Homo sapiens: one gene and its partners. The protein of the gene in region 4 interacts with the protein of the main gene of each other region in a pairwise test. Each region holds a gene or a part of one and is shown on either strand. Other genes may lie near its edges. The genes, in order: CHCHD3, ATXN7, MCM10 and CEP72.

Evidence for each region.
Region 1: the proteins of CEP72 (region 4) and CHCHD3 interact in binary tests that used the Homo sapiens proteins (3 or more experiments, as listed by UniProt).
Region 2: the proteins of CEP72 (region 4) and ATXN7 interact in a two-hybrid assay, tested with the Homo sapiens proteins (one study listed by BioGRID and IntAct).
Region 3: the proteins of CEP72 (region 4) and MCM10 interact in a two-hybrid assay, tested with the Homo sapiens proteins (2 studies listed by BioGRID and IntAct).

The regions. Positions count from the first base shown.
Region 1 is NC_000007.14:132,974,065-132,981,097, forward strand, and holds part of CHCHD3 (MICOS complex subunit MIC19), read right to left. Parts: intron 1,223-7,033; coding exon 1,105-1,222; intron 1-1,104. UniProt on the Homo sapiens protein: Component of the MICOS complex, a large protein complex of the mitochondrial inner membrane that plays crucial roles in the maintenance of crista junctions, inner membrane architecture, and formation of contact sites to the outer membrane.
Region 2 is NC_000003.12:63,866,834-63,873,866, reverse strand, and holds part of ATXN7 (ataxin-7), read right to left. Parts: intron 7,027-7,033; exon of another isoform or gene 6,954-7,026; intron 1-6,953. UniProt on the Homo sapiens protein: Acts as a component of the SAGA (aka STAGA) transcription coactivator-HAT complex. Mediates the interaction of SAGA complex with the CRX and is involved in CRX-dependent gene activation.
Region 3 is NC_000010.11:13,206,557-13,211,642, forward strand, and holds the end of MCM10 (protein MCM10 homolog), read left to right. Parts: intron 1-2,534; coding exon 2,535-2,577; intron 2,578-2,670; coding exon 2,671-2,754; 3' UTR 2,755-4,554; downstream 4,555-5,086. UniProt on the Homo sapiens protein: Acts as a replication initiation factor that brings together the MCM2-7 helicase and the DNA polymerase alpha/primase complex in order to initiate DNA replication. Additionally, plays a role in preventing DNA damage during replication.
Region 4 is NC_000005.10:608,212-615,347, reverse strand, and holds the start of CEP72 (centrosomal protein of 72 kDa), read right to left. Parts: upstream 3,009-7,136; 5' UTR 2,987-3,008; coding exon 2,905-2,986; exon of another isoform or gene 2,747-2,904; intron 796-2,746; exon of another isoform or gene 667-795; intron 1-666. UniProt on the Homo sapiens protein: Involved in the recruitment of key centrosomal proteins to the centrosome.

The DNA of each region.
Region 1 (7,033 bases), on a different chromosome or scaffold from region 4:
GAATACAAAAGGCAGAACATTATTCAGCCATTAAAAACTACATTTCAGAAAAATGTTCAGTGACATAGGAAAATGTTCATGAGGCTTAACACCATCTATAGCATTATCTAAATGTTTCAATATGTTAAAAAGCCTAGAAAAAAATAATCTCGAGGAAAACACACACTGGTGTAAACCATGGTTATATCAGAAAGACAGATTGATGGGTGTCTTTTAAACCTTCTTCTGTCTGTTAGTAATACTTTTAAAGACAACAACAAAAACATGTCTATGTAATCTTTTAAAAGATTAAAAAATATTTTCTTTTTAAAAAAATTATCTTAGAAAAGACTGTTCCCCAAGGCCCTGGCTCTACATTTTCTCTTCCCTAAACCCCAGGCAGTGATTGATCAAACCTTACTCACCTTTGCCAGAGTCTTCCAGACTAACATCTGGTAGTTGCCAGCCACGAGAGAAAGAAGCCTACATTGCTGACCCCTGAGGTTTCAAAGACAATAAAACCAAAGGCAAAGGACAAAAAAAGAAGACAGGCCGGGCTCGGTGGCTCACACCTGTAATCCCAGCAGTTTGGGAAGCCGAGGCGGGTGGATCACATGGTCAGGAGTTCAAGACCAGCCTGGCCAAGATAGTGAAACCCCGTCTCTACTATAAATACAAAAATTAGCTGGGCACGATGGCAGGTGCCTATAATCTCAGCTACTCGGGAGGCTGAGGCTGGAGAATCACTTGAACCCCGGAGGCGGAGGTTGCAGTGAGCTGAGATCGCACCACTGCACTCTAGCCTAGGCGACAGAGCAAGACTCCGTCTCAAAAAAAAAAAGGAAAGAAAAAGAAAAAAAAGCAGACAACAATCCTTCAGGTGTGAAACATGTACACATGTCTGCATGTTGGTCTTCAATACTTCCAGAGTTACCTGCCTTTAAAGTCCTTGATGGTTAAACCTAAACTGTAAGCTACTTATAAAAGGCAAAAATCAAAATCTGAGCAAAGAGAACATGAATAATATTATCAACACTAAAAGCTGGCACAGAGTACTTAGCTCTTCCCAAACATCAGAGATTTCCTTGTAGGCAAGAAAATTTCTCCTACATTTTTAATACTCACCAGGTGCTTTGCCTTAGCGCGTTCCTCCTCGCTACATATCCTCTCCCGAAGGATGGCTCTGGTTAACTGCTCATTGGCAGCAGCCCTCTCTCGGTCCAGCTCTTTGGCTTGCTTTAGTCTAAAATGACAAGAATTGTCTAAGTTAGAAAAAATATTTTATTAGTTGACATTATTTTCTATCAAATGAAATAATTTAAAAATAGAAACACATAGCCAAAAAGGTCAACAGCTGAAATCATCTTGGCCCATAATCTATCAAAAAAGCAGGTATAGAGGTAAATCCCCATGCAGCCTCCACTCAAGCATTTCAAATAACCAAATTCAAATACATGAAGAAGCTTATTAATTTGGCTGCCAAATATAACTAAGTTTTACAAAGTTCTTCTTATGTAAAATTAAAATCTGCCCACCAAAAAAATTCCATCCCTGGTGCTTCCATTTGGCCTCTGAAAATTTAAGTAATTAACAAACCATCTAGGCCAGGCGTGGTGGCAGCTCACACCTGTAATCCCAGCACTTTGGGAGACCAAGGCAAGTGGACCACTTGAGGTCAGGAGTTCAAGACCAGCCTGGCCAACATGGTGAAACCCCGTCTCTACTAAAAATACAAAACTTCGCTGGGCGTGGTGATACATTCCTGTAATCCCAGCTACCTGGGAGGCTGAGGCAGGAGAACTGCTTGAGCCTGGGAGGTAGAGGACGCAGTGAGCTGAGATCATGCCACTGCATTCTAGCCTGGGCGAATGAGACTCCGTTTAAAAAAAAAAAAAAAAGCCATCTACATGACAAATATTTGAAGGTAACCATCGTCTCTTTCTCCAAACTTACTCAACTCGTCCATTTACTGAATGCACACCAGGCACTGTGCTAGGCATTGAGGACACAGCGATAAACAAGATGGACAGGTCACTGTCATTGTGGATGTTACAGCACAGCAGAGAAGCCAGACATTATGGAACTAATAAGGACATCTTTCCTCCCAGTATATTACCCCTATTTTCCAACAATCCTCATATGCAAATATGACCACGCCTTTCAACTGCAGGGCTCCTCACTTCTGGAATGACTCCAATCGATCTGTTAGCTCCAAACTAAACCTAACCCTCCAGACATGCTCTAGCAAACTAAGACAGGAGAATCTTACTTCCCTAGATCTGTACACAATACTAATTCTATTAATGAAGCATAAGATTGCATTAGATTTCTCAGTAGCCTCATCACACAATTAGATCATATTAAGTTACAACCCACTAAAACCCCTCATTGTACATGATAAAGATAAATTACTTTGGCACTGATTTTTGCCATAGTGCCTGGCACATAGAGGCATTCAGTAATCACTGAATCACTGAAGATTTCAGTCTAATCTCATGAACAAAGATTTTCTGACTGCCTTTTCTTCTTTGAGAGAATAACCCTACTATACCATCATATCCCTGAAGGTATAGCTATGCTTTAAAAAGGAAAAGTAAAATTGTTATGTTGGTGTAAGTGAAATTCTGAGTGAAATCTACTTTATACGTGTGAATGATGAGCACCAAATTCTACTCAGTACTAGCTTATCAAATTTTAGTTTTAAAAAGATTTTTGAAAAAAACTAGAGATAAAATTTTGTGTTACTATTTTTAAATTGCTACATCATCCTGATACTCTGGAATTCTCAGAAATCAACTACAACAGAAAAAAAAAAGTCACCTTGTGAGATATATTCCAAAGTTATCATCCTTTTCCCCTAAAAATCAAAGCTGTGTAGTTTTGTGTCTTAAATAAAAAAAAAGAGGACTAGAAACAAGTTAAAATCTGTATTTCGAAATTCTCTAATGCAAAAGTAACCTTTGGGAAACTTCCTAAGCAATAAGCACAATGACACTCATACAAACCAAATTTCTCTAAATTATTTCACAAGGACCATACAATAAATTCAGCAACATCAATGATATCAACACATTAACACCACTGGATATGTGTAATTGTAAGAGAACAGCAATAATTAGAAGTCACACCACTTCCTAGAACAGCAGTTCTAAAACTACAGTCCACAAACCAGCTGCAGTAGCATCAGCTGGGAGTCTGTTAGAAATGCAGCTTCTCTGATTCCATCCCACACTTGCTGAATCAGAAACTCTAGGGATAGTGCCTAGCAAACTGTCTTTTCATAAGCCCTCTAGAATTCTGATGCATGCTAAAGTTTAAGACTACAGCCCTTAATTACCAAAATACACTTGTACTCAAATAAATCCTGGAGGTAAATGAAAGTAACATCAAAAATGAAGTGCTCCCCATGAGAATATTGTGCAAATAACTGCTGAGGTTATCATATCAGATTACAATACTGTATTTAACGCATTTGTATGGACATCTTACCCCTAAGTAAAAAAGCATTACCTATTTTTACCAGTGAGGTGGAAACTAAAATAAAATAATAAAATTACTATCATTTATGGATCAACTACTAAGCACTGTGCTAGGCACTTTACAAACATATATAAAATGTTTATTCAAATTCTATTATTAGTTCATGAACATAAAATGAATTCTGTTCAACTGAATTATCACATCTACCACATTTGGTGTATCTAATTTTAAAGTACTGTTTAAAAATTACTACTTTTTTTTTCCATTTTAGTTTACTTATGTATGGCTTAGATTTTAATTACATATGGAGTTCTACATGGTTCAACTTTAAGAAATACAGGATCATAAGGATTTTGGCAAGTTAATGAAAAAGAAGCAAAACATGAGCACAAAAGCCTTCAATGTGATAATAAAAATAAACATATTTAGCTTGCCATGACTGGTACAGATATGCAAACTCTGGGTCCAAATCAAGGCTCTAAACTTCCTATCTGAATAAGTACTTTATTTAATCTCCGGTGAGTCCTGTTATTCTCATGGGTAAAATGAAATAGTGTAATACCTACCTTACAGCGTTCTATATAAACAAGGCACTCAGCACAATGCCCATAACATAATATACACTCAATAAATGTTAGGTAAGTAGCAGTAATAATAATAGTACCCACTATGCGGGTAGGAATACAGAGAAAGCAGTGATTTTACGAAATGAAGAAGACAATCTCCAAATTCACTAACTACAATGCCATCTCCATCATCTTTTCCAATTTTTCACCAATAAATTCTGCTTTATTTTTATGATCTCTAAGGACTTCTAAAATCACAAATTGACTCTACTAACTCCAGCAGCTAGACCCTTTCACAAGCTGCTTCCTTTCCCTCTTGTCCATAGCTCCATAAGGACAACGATTTGCCCTATTTTTGTTCACTGCTATATCCCCCATACTTATAAAAGTGCCTGCCACATATCAAACACGCAAGAAAAAGTTGTTGATGTATGCATGTGTGAATGAATGAATGAATAAATAAATAAATGGCATATTTCTAACCACAAACAAAACAAGGAAAACAAACTGCAAAAGAACACAAGGCGATGGTATATAAGAAACAACTAACGAGACAAACTGTATCCTCCAAGGGCTTAGCCACCATGTTAGATGTGGCACATCTGTGATATAATCCCAGGCTACATTAAATAGCCTACAACAGGAGGTGCCACAACAGTCCAGAGCCCCTCCAACATCAACACCTAACTATATTTGACACCTGGATTGAAAGAGGATTGGCAGTGGTGCAAACTGACTAAAAAGAATATTATTTTCCTTTCTTAATAAATTCTTATACTTTCATTCATCCTTACAAATAGAACTGCACAAATTCTCAAATGTTTTTAAAGGAATGTTTATAAATTTTAAAAAAACTTTTTTTAAGGTCTGTATGGTGACTGTTTAAGAAACCAAATTTTTTGTCATCAGGGAGTTTGGCAGTAGGACTCTGAACAAATTCTCATTTCCTATCAACAACTTAGCTGTACAATCTAATAAGCCTCAGTTTCCTCAGTTTTAAAATTTGAAGGTTGAACTACTATATAATCTTATGGTCCTTTGCATATAAACATTCTAAAAAGTCTATACCTTAAACATATTATTCCTCATTCCATAAAAAATCTTGAAAAAGGTGGTGGCAGGGGATAAATAAAACAGAGGGGCATTATATTATCTCCCAGCTTGATACTGTTATAATTTCTACTCGATGGGCACATATACTTCTACTGTAATCCTGAGATTTCTCACTACAGTACTCAACAAAAACTACACACTGGAATTCATAAATTTATTCAGTATATAATTACTAGGTGAAAGGGACTACTCTGGTTACTGAGAATGAAGTAGTGAGCAAGAGACACAGTCCCTACTTTCATGAGCCATGATTACAAATAACAGATGCATTATTTTTAAAAAGTTAGGTAGGTATCTATGACACTGCATGGGTGGGACTGATATTTAACTTGAGCTCTACAGGACATTAACTGAGCAACATGGGGAAGGAGAAAGTGTCTTAGGCAGAGGAAACATCAGTTGGGTCCAGAAGCACCAAGAAAGGATTTCCTTCAGTTAGATTCCTGTGACACTTAGAAGGGTCTCTGAGGCATGAAATCACCTCTGCAAAGAATTTTACTTGCTTTCAGATTCTCTTGGAGGACAGAGTTTCAATGGTATACTGACTGAGGTTCAGTTTTGACCAGTGCCCAAAGATGAGAAGCTTCTAAGTTGTACCATTTCCCATTTAAAAGCAATAGATTTGAAACTTCAAAATTGTACCATTCTCCATTTCCCCAACCCTCCCCTCCAAAATATTGCATGGCAATTATTTTCTTCTAAGTTTCCTCTTTCAATGGTTCCTGTAAATTCTTTACTGAGCCAAAACCACTTTGCAAAGAAAAACTGCTTATGTTTTCAGAAACCCCCAATTACTTTCAAAGCTTCCTCTCTGGCCCCTTGGTTTTATACCGCATGGAGCTATACTATTCAACAGCCATCTGCAAAAGGTAGATGAGCTGTCAACCAATTTTTCTCTTTTTGAACCAAATAAGACAGCCCTGCCATCTGGGCCTCTCTGAAAACTACTGCCCAGATAGTGGAGCTATAAAATCAGAAGCCATGTTGTTTTGGGAACACTTCACTAAGGAGAGAAGACCCAGGCTCTCACTGACCAAGGGAAGGCAGGACTTTATATGTAAAGGCAGGAGATAAAATAAGTCTCTCATTATTAACTTGGGTTTCCAAAGATTTAAGAATTATCTCAAAACAAAACTAAACATGCCAAGTATCTTAGAGAATACATTCCTTTTTTATTTATTGGCATTTCCCACTTAATATTTTAGATCTCCTGCTCTAATATATTCTACATTAAGTCCCTGATTTAAGTTTCATTTAAATTTCTTTCTTTTAAATACATATCTCTCCTCATTTAAATTCTCTAGAGTTTCAAGCAAAGAAGTAGGAGTTTAGTGTAAACTTTTCTTGTTTGCATTAAGTAATTGGATAGCTTGCCTAAGCTTAATGAAACAAATACCAGTCAGTGCTGCCCTTAGACCTCAAGCCCTAGCAACTTAGCTCTTTCCTCAGTATATTGTCAATCAGGCGAGGGACTTAAGGTACACCAGCAAAATGAATTCCTAAAAGCCAGCCAAATCTCCTATAATAAATATTATTACATGTCCTTTTAAATGGGAAAACAAATTAACTACTTATAAAACATTCAACTTTCATGGACAGCAGGTATAAAATCTAGTTCTCTATATTTTAGTCCCAGGGTAAAAACTAGCCAGTTTGACTTTACTCTAAAGAACCTCAAGTTTTTAAGAAAGTAGAAAGAGAATTTTAAAGATAACTTTAGCAAGGCATTAACATATTGAACTTCATTCACCTCCATAAGGGAGGCATTACTAGCTCTAGTTTTTTTGTTTTTTGTTTTTTTGAAACATGGTCTTGCTCTCTTGCCCAGGCTGGAGTGCAGTGGCATGATCTCGGCTCACTGCAACCTCTGCCTCCCAGGCTCAAGCAATCCTCTT
Region 2 (7,033 bases), on a different chromosome or scaffold from region 4:
CCAGGTTTGGTGGCACACACCTGTATCCCCGGCTTCTTGAGAAGCTGCAGTGGGAGGACTGCTTGAGGCCAGGAGGTCAACGCTGCAGTAAGCCACGATTGTGCCACTGCGCTCCAGCCTAGGTGACAGAAGGACAGCTTGTTTCAAACACAAAACAAAACAAAACCCTTAGATGTAGGGTTGGGAAGGAGACGGGTGAACCAGGGATCATTATGGTGTCGCTTATATGTGATACAATGTCTAAACCAAGTCCACTCATAGTGGCCCACAAATGTTCAGATAGTAAATATCTGTTGGTTTTACCTGCCCTCCATCAATTCCCACTTCTGGGGAATGACAACTCCCCTAAAGGGTACTGGCTGAGTGAGGCAATAACCAAGGCACCTGCTGGGACCCAGTATGGGCCTGAAAGATATACTCTCAGTAGAAAGTGGGATTAAAAACTGCTGGAGAGGTTGGCCCTCCTGTATCCTGAGAAGACTGTCTACTGAGTCCTGCTACCTGGATCCCTGAAGCTGCTCTAGATCTGGTTCACTCTGAAGCCTGATTCTTTGGCATTGTTGTCACCACATCCCTCCAGTAATCTCTTTATGTTTAAAGTAGTCAGATTTAGTTCTTACTGCTTACAACCAAAGATCTCTGGCTGATTAGCTGTTATACTGTGTCTAGAAGAATTGCATTTTCTTAAAAATTGGGGGGATAAAATTTAATTTGATTGGCAAGTAATTAAACCATGAATTTCACATTGAAAAGGGATATATTATAGAGTAGAATACAAAATTCATGTAAAATTTTAAGATAATGGATTTTGAGATTTTAAAAACTACGCTTCCTCCCACTTCCCACCCTTCCTCTCTCCCTCCCCCATGCAAGTTCTTTAGTGATGGGATTAAGAAACACTGGTATAGACATAAATTTTCCTTAACTTTTAAGATCTGTCCCTAACTAGATAAAAGCTCTAGGGCAGGTTACTTAACCTTTCTAAGGCTCACTTTTCATACCTTTAAAATGGGATAATACTACCTACATGTAGAGCTGTTATCCCAAGAGGTAACACAGGAAACCATTTAGCACTGTTCCTCAGAACAGAGTTTTATCAATCATGGCAAACAAACAGAGTTTAGTTACTATAACAAAAGCAGGTTGGCACATATGTTGATGGCTGCAACAATTCCCTGTAGGCTATCCTGTGCAATATGACTTGGCAGCATTTGCCATCAAGAGGGGGTATCTTTGTCCAACTCCTAAAATTTGAGTTGGCCTTGTGACTTGCTTTGACTAGCAGAATATGGCAGAGTGGTACTGTGTGACTCTTAAGCTTAAGCCTCCAGAAACCTTGCAGTTCTCACCCTCCTGGAACAAAGTGCCTCCACCTGAGGAAATTTGATCTAGGCTGCTAGAAGATGAGATTATGTGGAGCTCAGAGAGATAGCCCAGCTTGACTAACTAGTTCTGACTCAAGACTTAAGAGGACTGCAGCCACATTAGTGACCTCAGGCCAGGCACTACCAATGGAGAACTGCTCTGCCCTAATTATGAGCAAATAAAATGGTATGTGTTTTAAGCCACAAACTTTTGGAATGGGTTGTTAACAATAGATAACTGACAGACATGCTTCATGAATTATCGTAATATTTCTATATTTTATAGTGTATTCACGTCCTAAAGTTTCCTATAACAAACTCTAAGGCCCAAAGTCCACAAAGAGTCACTATGTCACAGCCAGATGTGGTTACGTTTCTCATTCGTCAAGGCTAGATCAATGTTGCTAATTTCATATAAACAATGAACTGTATCTCCACCAGAATGTGGGGCATAGGAGATAGAACATACTCCAAAGCCAAAATAACTGAAGTGAAAATTTGCTAAAATTATCATAGTTAAACCACAAAGATGCAGGTGCAAATAAAGGTGAGTTGAATTTGAAGGTAACTGGCTAAGGAAAAAAAAGGAACAATTTAATTGATAATTAAAGCATTAAATTATAATCTGTTTTTTTTTTAAATTTAAAAACAAACCAGATTATAATAATGTTTAATAATCAAAATTATAGTTTTAGATTATAATTTAATAATTAAAACAGATTCTCCCCTGTAACAATTCTTGCTCCTGGCATTTTCTTCCATATACTTCAAAGATGACTAAAACCCTATTCTAAAAGTTCCATCTTATACATAGTCTCATTATATACCTTTTTTTCTATGAATAAATATTGACTGCATCATTCTTTTTAAAGATTGCAGCATATTCCACTACATGGATAGGCCCTAATTCACTTAATCCCCTATCCATAGGTATTTAGATCACTTTCTATGTTTTGTTATAAAAAAAGGACAGGTGAGCAATCTGGTACATACATCTGTGCATACTTCACCAACTGTTTCTTTAAATTCCTAGATGTGAATTTACCTTTTTTTCTTTTTTTGTAATGACTTTGGGTTCATATTGCCCAAACTGTTATCCAAAAGATACGTAGCAAATTTACTTTTTTTAACAAGAAGGAAACCCTTAAATGCTAAAAGTAAGAACACATTTTACACCTCTAATATCTATATATAAAATGGCAAACAATTTTTTAAATTGCATTCTATATCTAAAATACTGAGTCATGCCTCTTATACTGTATTTACTGTACATTTGGAGGGGGAAAAATCCTACAATACCCAAATAATCTCTAGTGGTTTTATTTTCAGCACAATGTTGTTTTGAAAAGGTAAACTCCAAAAAGAGTGTACTTGCTGCAAAATAAGCAAATCAGTAGAGAATGTTGAAAAGCAGGAAACGAAGCAAAAAATAAACCAATCAGTTAGAGCAGTTATCAGGTCACCAAATCTGCATCCTTACACAATGGCCAGGAGAGAAAGGTAGAGGGAGTGAAAAGGTGAAACTAAAAGAAGCAGCCCTCAGAGCTTCAGTGATGGCCGGATGAAATTACACACAGACATATATATCTACATGCTCTGTACACACCAATCCTAGAGCTAATCTCCAGGGGTTAGAACACAAGAGGAATTTTTGTGTGCTTTATAAAGCCAAACATATCATGCAGAAAGGGAATAGGGAAGGCCAGGATACAGATTTCCTTTAGGAAAGAATGTCTAGTTAGCAGCTTGAGAGGCCAGTATTAATTACTTCCCTTCCACGGCAAAGAAGGATTAATAGGAACATTAAGCAAAAGACAGCTCCAAAAGCACTGATTCCCTTCAAAAACCATCACATCTGAGAGGGTCCAATCATCAAGCTCTATAAAAAAATGGGCAAGGTGAGAACACTTAACAATAAATAAAATTAATTGGTGACAGAATCATGCATGTGCTAAGGCGGCCACACAATATGACTAATAAAAACTTATTGACTGAAGTTTCATCCTATCCAAAGAGATGAGGCATTAGATCAAACTGCCATACCAAAAGCAGAGTATGCTAAATAAAACAGCAGTGTGTGAGCACACACACACATACGTGTGTGTGCACATGTTGGGGGTGGTTGCTTGGCAATGCCACAAATCTATGCATCTAATATTCTAGGCAAGGATTCTGCAAATTATGGCCCATGGACCAAATCTAGCTAAGATTTGTATATAACAGGAGCTAAGAATGACTTTCACATTTTTAAATGGTTGAAAAAATAAAATATGACGTGACACATAAAAATTGCATGAAATTCAAATGTCAGTGTTCATCAACATTTCTTGGAACACAGTCATACCCATTCATTTATATCTATGAGTGTTTTCCTGCTATCATGGCAGAGCTGAGTAGGTGTAGAGACCTGGATGGCTGGCAAAGTAAACAATATTTACTATATGGTCCTTTACAGAAAATTTGCTGATCTCTGTTCCAGGCTATAAAATCACACAGTTGTTTGATGGATCACAGCTCCAAACCTGTGCAGGCTTGTTGGTTTGGCCCCTGACATATCCAAGATTTTGATATAACCTGCCAGGCCAATAGAGAATGCAACCCCATTGGCTAAGAACAATGGAGAAGTCCAATAGGTCATCAAGATGTTGGGATACCTGCCTATCATAACAAGAAAATGTAAAAGGCTTTTCTGAGTTGAAAGTAAGATGGTTCCAGAAGGTCTAAGTGGGAATAAGGATGAATAAAGGTATTCTCTTTAAAAGGATGTATAGTATCTCTAGCAGGGTGCGGTAGCTCACAGCTGTAATCCCAGCACTTTGGGAGGCCGAGGCAGGTGGATCACCTGAGGTCAGGAGCTCAGGATCAGCCTGGCCAGCATGGCGAAACCCCATCTCTACTAAAAATACAAAAATGAGCTGGGCGTAGTGGCACATGCCTGTAATCCCAGCTACTAGGGAGGCTGAGGCACGAGAATAGCTTGAACCCTGGGAGGCAGGAGTTGCAGTGAGCCAAGATCATGCCACTGCACTCCAGCCTTGGCAACAATGAGCCTCTGTCTCAAAAAAAAACAAAAAGAAAAGAAAAGAAAAAGATGTATGATATCTCCTTCTAAAGATGAGAATGTAACTGTCTTCAAAATGGCTACCACTTTCTGAGTACTTACTAGGAGCCTAGGAGTAAGCAAAACTTTTTTGCATTTATTATCCCATTTAATGGTCATCTCCTCTAGACTCAAAGAAGGAGACTGGACCAAGTTGAACACAACCAGAGAGCTCAGGAAATGAGAATCAAGGCCATATTCAAAGCCTAAAGGCTGTGTTCATAACCATTTCCCAACCCAAGGGCAGAAAGCATAAATGATCACCACGAATAAATGACAGGAAAGGTTAAGACTATAGAAATAGTAGAAGCAAGTTTATTTTTATGGCCATAAGCATTATACAGTATTTTATTTACGTATCTCACACTTTCTTTTGACTCATAATGCCCTCTCTTACTTCAGCATTTAAAGTAAAATATGATTCAGTCCTGCCAGACCCTTTCCTATTGACAAAAATCAACACAGGTACCCAACTGTGAAGGCATTTTAAAGACAGCAGAATTAGACAACTAAAGTTATAAGTGTAACTTCCACCCATGAAGTCCCTGGGTTACCTGTGAAGGTCTCAAAACGAAAGGAGTGCTGAAGCACTTTTAGGGGTGATGGACTATAAAGTACATGTGCAGTATTTTAGTTTTTTAATTCAGATTATAAGTGAAGAGAAAATGTTAAATGGAATCTTGCCCACAGAGAGAAATATAATGCTGGTGGGTGGCTATCATTTCTTCCTGCCCAGCAGCATCCATGTCCTCCCCTCTGCCAAATAAACCATCATTTTCCACTTTCCTCTAAATATCTATATTTGGGGACCACTCAATCCTAACTCATTTTTGAAAATCTTTTTCTTAAAAAACAATGTTTTAAGTGTTAATATCTTCATCACACCAATTTGGAAATAATGTACTTATTATCCTATACCATGAATATACATGTTTCCTCAGATGTTTATTAATGGTTCCCCAAACCTGGCTTGTAAGTCCTTCTTGCGGGCCAAAGAGGAGCTAAGACTTTTATACGGGAAACTTCTAGCTAGCCTCCCAACAACTCTACTAGTTAGCCATATCCAGATGAGTAACTGAAGAGTCAAGCAGGGTAAGTAGCTACAGTGAATAAAGGAAACCAAATTTGAATTTTAAGTCTATTTTGACTCAAACTGTGTTTTTCCCATCATGTTCTACTGTCCTGCCAAGGCACAAACACATTTTCTTACAATGATTCCCTTTGAGTCAAATTTCAAATTTTCTGGAGAGAAGAGAGTGGAGCTGAAAGACCCATTTACTCCAACGGCTGGTGTCAAGATCAAATCTTTGCTTATCTACCATCAAACGATCTGGTCTGAATTTTTAGATATAATTTTTTAAAAACACAGCCACAGTACATGCAGGACTAGCACGTCAGACCAGCTTGGCTTATCAACTGATAGGCAATGCTTTGTTGTGGGAATAAAATGGAAGTGCTTTTACACCTCTAAGTCTGAAGACAACTTTATTTATTTATTTGTTTGTTATTTATTTATTTATTTCAGTGTCTTACTCTGTTGCCCAGGCTAGAGTGTAGTGATCTCGGCTCACTGCAACCTCAGCCTCCTGGGTTCAAGTGATTCTCCTGCCTCAGCCTCCTGAGTAGCTGGGATTACAGGCCACACCACCACGCCTAGATAATTTTTTTTGTATTTTTGGTAGAGATGGGGTTTCACCATGTTGGCCAGGCTGCTCTTGAATTTCTGACCTCAAATGATCCACCCGCCTCGGCCTACCTCAAATGATCCACCCGCCTTGGCCTCTCAAAGTGCTGGGATTACAGGCATAAGCCACTGTGCCCAGCCTGAAGATAACTTTAAAAGGCAAGTAACGAGCACACAGATCTACTTTTCAAAAATGTTTTTTTCTCTTTAGAATGGTCATTCTGTGATGGCTCATGACTGTAATCCCAGCACTCTGGGAGGCTGTGGCAGGAGGATCACTTGAGCCCAGGAGGTCAAGGATGCAGTGAGCCAGTTTCATGCAATTGCATTCCAGACTGGGCAACAAAGTGAGACCCTGTTTCAAAAGAAAAAGGAAAAAAGAAGAAAGAAAAGAAAAGAATTCTAACTTCCATTTTATTCAATAAAAAGATGTGTCTCTAATTTTTTTAAGTCCTGGATCTCTTTTCTAAAACAACTACAGACCCTCTTCCAGAAAAATACACATACACAAAAAGTTCTGGTCACAACTACAGGGAGTTCAGGAATCCCTTGAAACCAACCCTTGGAGGGTCACAGACCCCCAGGATAACTCTTGCTCTAAAAGCATAGTACAAAATTCCTTACATTATTTCACAGACCCAGAATAAAGACCATATATAGCTAGCTCTCTCATAATTTTTTATATTTTCAGAAAGCAAATATCAAATAAACACACAAATTTTCTTAACTAGTCTTTCATATTCTCAAAAAAAAAAAAACCCAGAAATCTTATGACTCAAATAAATCAATAAATATAAGGTCATACAAGTTCAAAGTCTGAATCAGTTTTCTTAAAATCTGCTACTTCCATTTCTGTGTTTCTGCCCATAAAGATCTGTCTTGAAA
Region 3 (5,086 bases), on a different chromosome or scaffold from region 4:
AATTTTTCACAATCTAGATTATAATTTTTAAGTAGTTATTTATATATTGATACTTGACTTTTTTCCAAACTAGATGACTAAAAATGTCATTATAGCAAGAGCTTATGGAAAACGTTAGAAAAATTAAAAAAAATTCTGTTTATTAAGTACAGGGCACAAATGGAAGGGCATGATGCCTTTCAGCCTCCAGATGGCACTGTGATTGTAAGAACCATGTTTTTTCTGGACTTTTTGTCAGTTGCTTTTTTTTTTTTCCTTCTTTTTTTGAGACAGGGTCTCACTCTGTCATCCAGGCAGGAGTGCAGTGCCATGATCATAGCCCATTGCAGCCTTGAACTCATGGGCTCAAGCGATCCTTCTGCTTCTGCCTCCTGAGTAGCTGGGACTACAGGTGTGCACCACTACACCCAGCTAATTTTTTTAATTTACTTTTTTTTATAGAGACAAGGTCTCACTATGTTGTCCAGGCTGGTTTCAAACTCCTGGGCTCAAGTGGGCTCAGCTGCCCAAAGTGCTGGGATTGCAGGCCTGAGCCACCATGCTTGGCTAGTTCTTGATCTAGAACAGAAGGCAGCACACATTGCCTGTAAAATGTCAGTGGTGAATATATTAGGCTTTGTGGGCCAGATGATCTGTCACAACCACACGGCTCTGCTGGTGCAGCCTGAAAGCAACCATAGATAATACACAGGCAACTGGGCACGGCTGTGTTCAAATAAAACTTTATTTATAAAAACTGGTGATGTGCTGGATTGGGGTTGTAGTTTGCTGACTCCTAACTAGAATAGTGATTTTTTTTTTCTCACAATTTTATCATTGATCGACATATAGGCTACCAGAGTTCTCTTCATTGATACTGAACCAGTCTCTAGAGGTGGAAGGTGATGGTTGGGAGGTTGTAAGGGCTAAGGCCACTGGCGTGCCACCTTTCAGGGCAGAAATTGTGATATGGTTTGGCTGTGTCCCCACCCAGATCTCATCTTGAATGGTAGCTCCCATAATTCCCACAAGTTGAGAGAGGGACTCAGTGGGAGGTAATTGAATCATGGGGCAGGTCTTTCCCGGGCTGTTCTCATGAAAACAAATAAGTCTCATGAGATCTGATGGTTTTATAAAGGAGAGTTCCCTGCACACACTGTCTTGCCTGCCGCCATGTAAGACATGCCTTTGCTCTTCCTTCGTCTTCCACCATGATTGTGAGGCCTCCCCAGCCATGTGGAACTGAGTCCATTAAACTTCTTTCCTTTATAAATTACCCAGTCTTGGGTATGTCTTTACTAGCAGCATGAGAACAGACTAATGAGAACGAGTAGACTCTAAGCTAGGTAAGGGGAAGGGGAGACAGGCAGAGCATCCCCACCCCACCCCAACCCTCTGAAATCCAAGTAAGCAGGCAGACATACTTCCTTAGCTTTATTATATGTCTTCTCTCTTTCTCTCTCTTTTTCCCAGAGTAAACTTCATAGGAAATAAGTTTTCACCATAGTGTTCACATCCCTTCTCAGGGTGGAAGTCACCCACCATTTTAAAAACTAGAGCAAGAAGGGCTGGACTTGGTGGCTCATGCCTGTAATTCCAGCAGTTTGGGAGGCTGAGGCAGATGGAACACTTGAGCCCAGGAGTTCAAGACCAGCCTGGGCAACATAGTGAGACTCCCCATCTCTACAGAAATTTAAAAATGAGCTGGGCATGGTGGTGTACACCTTTGGTCCCAGCTACTCAAGAGGCTGAGGCAGGAGGATCACTTGATCCCTGAAGATCAAGGCTGCTGCAGTGAGCTGTGATCGCACTACTGCACTCCAGCCTGGGCCACAGAGTGAACCCTGTCTCTAAAAAAAAATAAAAACAAAACAAGAGTCCCTGGGCCCTTTGAATAAAAAGAGAGTAAAGAGGCTGGGCACAGTGGCTCACGCCCGTAATCCCAGCACTTTGGGAGGCTGAGGCAGGCAGATCACTTGTGCCCAGGAGTTTGAGGCCAGCGTGGGCAACATAGCAAAATCCCATCTCTCCAAAAAAAAAAAAAAAAGGAAAAGAAAAGAAAGTGAGTAAAGGCTTTTGGGTTATAAAGAGAAAGGGAGAAGGATGATCCAGACTAGAAAGAAGATTATTCCTTTCTTAGCTCAACCTTTTTGCTCCAAAAAAAAGAGGAGGAAGGGGCCAAACATAGATTATCCTGCACCAGAGGGCCAGCTCCTTAAATCTGAGTCTCATCCCAACCACCATCATTTGTAAAAACCAAGGGTGCATTCATTACCTGCAGTGCGTGGATCCCTGTGGTGCCATCATTATCATTTGAAGCTCCATCTCTGAAGCCTCTAGCTTTGTAAGGACCTACAGACCACTTCCCAAGTCATTGCAGGTTTATTTTTGTCGCATTTGAGCATAACCTCAGATTTGGCATACAATACGAATGTCACCTTGAACAGCTTCTCCTTGAATGGGGGCCTACTCTCCCCAGGTGCAGTGAGCACCGTCGTCTTTACATGAGTGGGCCTACACCACCCTGCTGAGTAAATCCATCTGTTCTGTTTCAGTAACTGTGGCCTCTACAAATGGGAACGGGACGGAATGCTAAAGGTATGCCATTTGCGTACTAATTTTTGACTCCTTTTAGTGACCCATGCTAATAATGTGGAACCATCTCCTATTAAAATATTTTCATTTTTCTAGGAAAAGACTGGTCCAAAGATAGGAGGAGAAACTCTGTTACCAAGAGGAGAAGAACATGCTAAATTTCTGAACAGCCTTAAATAACCCGAACTTCAGACATTTTCCCACAGACTTCCTGGCCTCCTGTGACTCTGGAAAGCAAAGGATTGGCTGTGTATTGTCCATTGATTCCTGATTGACGCCGTCAAAAACAAATGCTTGTTAAGCCCATAAGCTTTGCCTGCTTACTTTCTGCCATTGGGTTGGTTTGATACCACATTTAACATTGACATTTAAGTGGAAAACCAAGTTATCATTGTCTTTTCTAAGCTCAGTGTGGATGATTGCATTACTTCATTCACTGAAGTTTTTGCCCAAAAATTGGAAGGTAAACAGAGAGCTATGTTTCTGTATCTTTTGGTTATAGAGTGTTCACTTCTTTATCATAACAAAATTCTAGTGTTTATACGAACACCCAGAGGCAAAAGAATTTGGCTTAATTCTCACTCCAGGTAAGTAGCTTAACTTCTGGGCTTCAGTTTTCTCATCTGTAAAATCAGGAAGATTGGACTAAGTGATCCTGAAATGTATTTTTTAGCACTGGATTTCTACAAATAATAAAACTTTCCCATCTAGATAATGATGATCACATAGTCTTGATGTACGGACATTAAAAGCCAGATTTCTTCATTCAATTCTGTTATCTCTGTTTTACTCTTTGAAATTGATCAAGCCACTGAATCACTTTGCATTTCAGTTTATATATATAGAGAGAAAGAAGGTGTCTGCTCTTACATTATTGTGGAGCCCTGTGATAGAAATATGTAAAATCTCATATTATTTTTTTTTTAATTTTTTTATTTTTTATGACAGGGTCTCACTATGTCACCCTGGCTGGAGTGCAGTAGTGCGATCGCGGCACACTGCAGCCTTGGCTTCCCTGGGCTCAAGCAGTCCTCCCACCTCAGTCTCCCAAATAGCTAGGACTACAGGCGTGCGTGACCAAGCCCAGCTAATTTTTGCATTTTTTGTAGAGATGGGGTTTTGCCATGTTGCTCAGGCTGGTCTCAAACTCCTGAGCACTAGCAATCCACCCACCTCTGTTTCCAAAAAAAAAAAAAAAATGAAAGGTCAACCCCTATGCAAATTACCACAGCAAAGGTTTCATTCAGGAGATTCTTCCATCTGGGCAACCTGGTTTTCCAAATATCATTTGACCTAAGTGAATGTTGATACTAGCTAAAGATTGGGTAAATTGGTTGAATTATTGTATTGAAGCTTGAGCTGTAGCTAAAAGTAATTTAGGTTTCCCCTAAGATGTTATTATGTTAGGGACATAACACTTTTGGGAGGTTGTTGTGGGAGATGGTTGATTTAGGTTTTCAAAAGCTAGAAATAAAATTTACATGCCTTAGATTTCATAAAATTCTGCTCTAATTGGGTGGAAGGTGCTGTATCTAACTTGTGTTCCTCCTAAGGTTATGTCCTAATAACTATTCTTTTAGGAGTATACTTCTACTTTATAGAAGGTTGCTTTTCTTTTTAATTTTTTCTAACAAAGAAAAGAATAAAGTATTTATTAATAAGAACCAGAAAGCACTTGAAACTGATGTTTTTAATGGCTCATTTAGGGTAGATTTATTTATCTCATTAACTTAAAACAGCTATGTGTATGAAATAGGTCACAACAGAACTTGAACACCAGGTTGGTGTCTGAGCAATCCCTTTCTTATGGGAAAAACAATGTTCTTGTTTGAACAGAGGGTATCATTGCAGTCAGTATTCACGTGTATATTGTTATATAAGTTGTATAATATGCTTGTAAAGGCTGAGGGTGAGCTGTATCTGGATGCCTTTTTACAATTTGATTTTAACTTTTAAAATAAATTTAAAACATAATTGTCACTTCTTAGTTTTGCTCAATCTTGGGGGACTTTGCTTTGAGGTGCTCTGTGCATGTGCTTTCTTAGCATATTTGGGGATGAGACGCGGTCGGTAGGGGTGGGGTAGGGAAACTTGTTATTTTATTTTACTTATTTTTTTGAGACAGAGTCTTGCTCTGTCACCCAGGCTGGAGTGCAGTGGCGCAATCTTGGCTCACTGCAACCTCCACCTCGTGGGCTCAAGCAATCCTCCCACTTCAGCCTCCCGAGCAGCTGGGATTACAGGTGGGCGCCACCGTGCCTGGCTAATTTTTGTATTTTTAGTAGAGAAGGGGTTTCACCATGTTGCCCAGGCTGGTCTCAAACTCCTGGCCTCAAGTGATCCACCTGCCTCAGCCTCCCAAAGTGCTGGGATTACAGGCATGAGCCACTGTGCCCAGCCTAATCCTACCTTCCTTATCAACCTTTATGAAATGCTTTCATGCAAATCCAACATATGTGTTTTATTTTTCTTAACCTGTCATTGGTAGCGTAGGGATTAAATGTGTAATCAC
Region 4 (7,136 bases):
CCTGGCCAACATGGTGAAACCCCGTCTCTACTAAAAATACAAAAATTAGGCAGGCGTGATGGCAGGCGCCTGTAATCCCAGCTACTCGGGAAGCTGAAGCAGAGGAATCATGTGAACCCGGGAGGCAGAGGTTGCAGTGACCCAAGATCGTGCCACTGCACTCCAGCCTGGGGGACAAGAAGGAAACTCTGTCTCAAAAAAAAAAAAAAAAAAGAGGAAGACTACATATACTAAAAGGGTCAGTCCACTAAGAAGGTATAAAAATCCTAGCTATGTAATTCAACAAACAGAGCTTCAAAACATACAAAGTGAAAAAAAAAACAGACAAATCCACAATTACAGTTAAGGGTTCCAGACCCCTCTCTCAGTCATTAATAGAGTCACTAGACAGAAAATCAGCAAGGATACAGAAGAACTGAACAATATCACCAACCAACAGGATCTAATTGATATTTATGTATTTACATAACACTCCACTCAACAACAGAATACACACACACTCAAGTGCACCTGGAACATTCAACAACATAGACCAGATGCTGGATCATAAAACAAACCCTGACAAATTTAAAAGAATTAAAATCATACAGATTATGTTCTGGCCATAATGGAATCACACAGAAAAATAACAGGAAAATATCCACACATGGAACGTTAAAAACATACTCCTTAAAAATCCACAGGTCAGGCCGGGCGCGGTGGATCATGCCTGTAATCCCAGCACTTTGGGAGGCCGAGGTGGGCGGATCATGAGGTCAGGAGTTCCAGCTACTCGGGAGGCTGAGGCAGGAGAATGGCATGAACCCAGGAGGCAGAGCTTTCAATGAGCCAAGATTGCGTCACTGCACTCCAGCCTGGGTGACAGAGCGAGACTCCACCTCAAAAAAAAAAAAAAAAAAAAAATTCACAGGTCAAACAGGAAGTATCGAGGGAAATTCTTAAAATACGCTGAACTGGATGAAAATTAAAATACAACATAACAAAATTTGTGGATACAGCTAAAGCAGTGCTTACAGGGAAACTTGTGGCACTGTTTATAATAGAAAATAGGAAAGTCTCAAATCAATAATCTACAGTTTTGCCTCAAGGATTTAGAAAAGTATAAAATAAATGCAAAGCAAGCAGAAAGAAGGAAATAAAAAAAAGCAGAAATCAATGAAATTTGAAACTAGAAAAACACTGGAGAAAAATCAAACCCAAAGTCGGTTCTTTGAAACTATCAATAACATTCACAAGCCTCTAGCAAGACTAAAAAAGAAAGAATACACAGATTATCAACATCAGGAACAGAAAAGGGATATCCCTGTAAACCTTGTAGCACTAATCAGGGAAGAAGGGAGGACTCGGCATGTCCCGAGGTCAGCTGCCCTCTCACCTGCTTCCTCAGAGCCCTGTGGTGCCTACTGCCTCAGGATCACTTGGATTTTGTCACGAGGTTACAGTTCCCCTTAACCACTCTACAGATAATAACCTGGACATTATAAACCGTTAAGTTTTCCATTTGAGATATTCTTTCAGGACCTGGGGACTGATGCCAGCTGGTCTAAAGGGCCCCGCAAGCGGATTCACCAAAGAATGCAGTTTCCACACCCTGATAATTCCATGGCCCTTACCTCCACCAACTGACAACACCAATCTTCCAGCTCCTCACAGTCCTGTTCCTCTAAAACCCCCAGCTCAGGCTGGGTGTAGGTGGCTCATGCCTGTAATCCCAGCACTTTGGGAGGCCAAGGCAGGTGGATCACCTGAGATCAGGAGTTCAAGACCAGCCTGGCCAACATGGTGAAACCCCGTCTCTACTAAAAATATAAAAAATTAGCCGGGCATGGTGGCGCGTGCTTGTAATCCCAGCTACTCAGGAGGCTGAGTGAATCACTTGAACCTGGGAGGTGGAGGTTGCAGTGAGCTGAGATTGTGCCACTGCACTCCAACCTGGACGACAGAGTGAGACTCCGTCTAAAAAAAAAAAACCGCTCAGATCTCCTTGGGGAGATGGATTGAGGCCTCCTTCCACCTCCCTGCTGGGCCCCTGCCAGCCTTAAACTCTTTCTCTGCTGCAAACCCCACTGTCTCAGTGTATTGGCCTGTGGCCCCCACAGCACCTGACTGAACCTGTTGGTCCAGTAACACCTGCAGACCACACACAGACATTAACAGGCTAACAACAGAACACCAGAAACAACTCAACACACACACTCCACAAGTTAGCTCAAATAAGCCAATGCCACAAAACCCCACACAGCCAAGACTCGCGGTGAACTAATATGAACGGTTCTCTAACAACCAGAGATACAGAATTTGTCATTTAAAAGCTTCAAAAACAGAAATTGACATGTCCATATGGTTTCACTGGAAAATTCCAGGAAACATTCAAACAATGAGCACACACTCTACAGAACCTCTTCTAAATATAAGAGAAGGCAACACTTCTCAGCAGTTTATGAGCTCGGCTTCACCTTGACGCCAAAACCAGACAAAAATAAGCCAAAAAGAAGGAAACCGGCCACCAACATCCTCAAGAAGGCCGAGCGCAACAATCACCACAGAGTGGGCCCAGGAGAACCAGGGAGGTGATCCCCAGCGGGAGGGCGGGCTGCGCTCCTGGACAGCAAGGCCGGCTCCCTCTTCTCAGCGGATGTAACCCCCAGTCACGGAACCAGTGACCCGATAGACAGGCAGGGGCCGGGACGCCGGGACCCGAACGCGGGCAGGGGCCGCACCTGGGCACGGGGGGTGGGTCGCTCACCTGGACACGCGCGCCCCGCTCGCCCGCGACCGTTCCGGACGCCCGCGGCGCCTGCGTAGACGGGTCCCGCCTGCCCACGGTCCGCCGCCGCCCCGGGAAGCTCGGCACCCACCCCCCCGCCACCTCACGCTTGCACCCCCGCCCGCCCTCCGGCGCACCCAGGTCGCGGTGAGGCCCTAAGCCGCTCTTCGCCCGAACCGCCTCCTCGCTCAGCACCAGCCGAGGGCCAGCCCGCGCCATGTTTCAAACGGAGCCCTCGGACGGCGCCTGCGCGGCGGGCGGGGCGAGGCTACGAGAGGGGCGGGACCTGCGTCGGCAGAACCGAGAGCCTGGCGGGACGGGGCGGGGCCTGCGCGGCGGGGCGAGGGGCGTGGCTGGGGGAGGGGGCGGGACTGCGTGGGCGGAACCAAGAGCCTGGCGGGGGGTTCTCCTGAATGGCGGTTCTCCCAGGTACTGGCCACGCGACCCCAGCCCCCGCCCCAGATAGCTCCCTGTCAAGGCTTCCCTGGGCGCGGCCGCCTTCTAGGCCCCGGCCCTTGACACACGCGGTGTCCTCCCGGGGAAACCCCGAGTAGGCGCGGTGGAATCGCGGCTGGTGGTGGGCATGGGGACCCTGCCCCATCCACACTCCGCTCCCACCCTGAACCCAGCGCCCCCGGGGACCCCCGACTCACCTAGACTCCCCACCCAACCCGACCCCCCCGCGGGGACCCCTCCAGACACCCCAGCACCCGCCCGGAGCCTTGTCTGCTGCACCTCCCGTCCAGCCCCGGGCCTCCCAGAGGTGGGCGGGAGCTGAGCTTCTCCCCAGCCAGTCACTCCCCACGGCCGGTCCTTCTCCACCCCAGAACCTCCAGAGATGTCACAGGCCCAGCACTGTGGCTCGTGGCTGACCGCGCCCTGGAGGGTCTCGCTGTGTTTATCCTTGTGAGGTCCTTCTACAGAGCTTTCAAGGAAGACAGAGTTCAGCCTGTTTATTGGGAAGACTTTAATCCTGCTCAAGACATCTACTGTGTCACCGTACCACTGTGGCCCAGCGCCTGGTGGAGTGAATCCAGACCCCCAGGGGTGTCCCCTCCCCGCCTTTCTCCTGGTGTCTAGGGGCACCCAGAAACCCTCACCCCAGATTAGACCAGCTCGTTGGCAACATCCCTGGTATGTCACAGCCTGGGGGGTGATAGACAAGGCAGGGTAGTGGTGGGGGGTACGTATGGTGGTAGTAGACGAGGGTATACACAGACAGAGGGTGTACATGGGGAATGTGTGCAGGGGCTGTGTGCAGGGAGTGTGTGTGGATGGTGTAGGGGAGTGTGTAGGGGAGTGTGTAGGGGGTGTGTGCAGAGGTTGTACACGGGGTGTGCAGGAGGTGTACTCAGAATGTGTTCAGGGAGTGTGTGCAGAAGGTGTACATGGGGTGTATGCAGGAGGAGTGTGCAGAGGGTGTACATGTAGGGGGTGTGTGCAGACAGTATACAGAAGGGGTGTGTGCAGAGGATGCACACAGGGTCTCTGCAGGGAGTATGTGCAGTGCTGTACATAAGGAGTATGCAGGGGGTATATACAGGGTGTATGTGCAAGGGGTGTGTGCAACAGTGTGTGCAGGAGGTGTGTGCAGGGTCTATGTGTGGGGGTGTGTGCAACAGTGTGTGCAGGAGGTGTGTGCAGGAGGTGTGTGCAGGAGCTATGTGTGGGGGTGTGTGCAACAGTATGTGCAGAGGTGTGTGTAGGGGCTATGTGTGGGGGTGTGTGCAACAGTGTGTGCAGGAGGTGTGTGCAGGAGGTGTGTGCAACAGTGTGCAGGGGGTGTACACAAGGTGTGTGCAGGAGGTGTGTGTAGATGTGTGTGCAGGAGGTATACACAGGGTTTGTGCAGAGGATGTGTGTGGGAGGTGTGTGCAGGGGATCTGTGCAGGGAGTGTACACAGGCTGTGTGCAGAGGCTATGTGCAGGGGGTGTGTGCAACAGTGTGCAGGGAGTGTACACAAGGTGTGTGCAGGAGGTGTGTGCAGAGGTGTGTGCAGGAGGTATACATGGTGTGTGAAGGTATGTGTAGAGGTGTGTGCAGGGGGTATACACAGGGTTTGTGCAGAGGATGTGTGAGGGAGTTGTGTGCAGGGGATCTGTGCAGGGAGTGTACACAGGCTGTGTGCAGGGGGTATGTGCAACAGTGTGCAGGGGGGGTGTGTGCAGAGGTGTGTGCAGGGGGTGTACACAGAGGGTGGTGGCAGGCGGTGGATGCAAGGCTGCATCTGTTCAGCCCAAGACGTTCCATTGGTCCAGTGGTGTTAGAGCACATTTGGTCAGGTTGCCTTCATGGGATATTTGACAAGCTGCAAACCCGAGGGCATGCTGGTGCCCGAGGGCGCCTCCGTGCTGACCTCAGCATGTGCAGCAAGAGCCAGGGCACAGGGGCGGCCTGGCCCATTTCAGGCAGGTGCTCTGTGGGAGGGTGGCTGTCTCCACTGACAACCCAGGGAGGTCAGCAAGGAGGAGCCCTGAGGTGGACTCGAAAGCTGTGGGAGCTGATGGCCCTCCTGGTCTCTGCCACAGCCCTTAGGCTGTGGGACACACAGCGTCACATTTGATCACTGTTCATGGGGCCTGCCGAACACTCAGCATTCCTGAGTGCAGATCGTCACGTAACTTTCCAAAAATTGCAAACCCAGATATGGCTCCATGACCCCTCCTGCAAGACTGTGAAGGAGTTCAGGGCACAGCTGAGCCCTCACACCCCCAGCCCCATCACTGCCCCTGATATGCACTGAGTGGAATTCTGTCCCGCCAGGAGACAAACAGTGGACAGCATCCTGGCTCTTCAGAAGCACATGACGATGGCAAACTGAAGGCCTCATGGGCCCTCACCCAACAGCAGTGGCTTTTCAGGGCATAACACAGGCCCCAAACACTGAGCCTCTTCCTCCTGGGCAGGTACCCAGCTGGCCAGACAGGGCAGGGTAGGGGCGAGTGGGACCTCAGTGGGCAGCCGGTCCAGGACAGAACCACACGGGGATGTGATGGAAGTACCAATGGGAACTTTGAAAACAATGCCTCTGCTCACCAAAGTATCCCAGCTTCACTGTAGAAAATATAGACACTACAGAAGGGCACCGAGATTCGATATGCCGCCCTGCTGAGATAACCCACACTAACATGCCCACATGTATCCTGCAGGTGTTTTTCAAGCCTGTGCGTATTGACAGTCATGAGGCTATGCTAAGCATTGCCGGATGCATCTGCCACTAAGTAGTCTTTAACGTTGTTTATTAAACACTTTTAATGGTCACGTTAGATCATAAACCAAACCCAACTTTATTATCCTGTCTTCTGCTGCTGAAAGTTGTGTCTGTCTCCACTTCCTCACGGTGCTCACTCTGGTTGGCCAAATCATGAAGATCCATGGAGGCGCGGGAGCCTTCCGGCCTGGAATGGGGCAGCAAAAGCACAGAGCCGCAGAGAAGCCGGGAAAGCAAAGGCAGGGGCTGCTGGGCTGGGCCCCATCAGCCCCATGGCAGCGGCACCCGCACAGGCCTGGGGTCCCCAGCAGCAGGGATGCTGTCTGTGGGCCCAGGGCTCCTCCACAGCTTTGGGGGCTTCCTGCCAGAGGAGGGGGGTGGTTCTCCTGGGAGGGGCCCCAAGACAGGAGTCCCCAGACCTGGGCACGCCTCACCTCGGGTAGGGCCCCAACGCTTCAGCGGGTCTCACTGGCATCCCTAAACCTAGACCACAGGAGAGTGTGCTGTGCCATCATCACGATGACCCCTCCCCATCCCAGCGCACGCTCCCACGACGCACCGTGCTCACAGTGACCCCTCCCCATCCCAGCGCACGCTCCCACAATGTGCCGGGATCACAGTGACCCCATGGGCTACCTGCCGCTCCCAAGGACTAATGGAGGCCTCTGTCCCCAGGTTCTATCCCGGGTTCCTCACAGGGCACCAGCCCTCAGGCCCAGTTAAATTCCGGAGCGGCTCTTTAAGCCCACAGGCCCAGGCCGCTATGGTAGGACCCAGGTGGGAGAGGCTCTCCGTGTGCTGTCTCCCTGACAGGTGCCCCATCCATAGCTTTCTAGAACATCCCAGGGAGGCTCCCAGGCCCCGAGCCTCAATCCTCAAGCCTGTGGGTCCCAGACTGCAGGCTCAGTGAGCCCTACAGAGACCAGGCCAGCGGAAGGAAACAGGGAGACCCACATGGTCAGAGAAGAGGGCTGGAGGTTCAGCCTGAGGGGCCTCTGGGCTTTCTCTAAACAGAGCGGGGGTGGGAGGAGGCTGTGATGTACAGTGAGGGGACTTGAGAGGGAAATGGGGGCCTCCACCCACCCCAGGGACGAGCGCTCACCCCAGGCCCACCTGGCTCGCAGCATCCAAGCCAGGGCTACGCAGAGCAGCTGCTC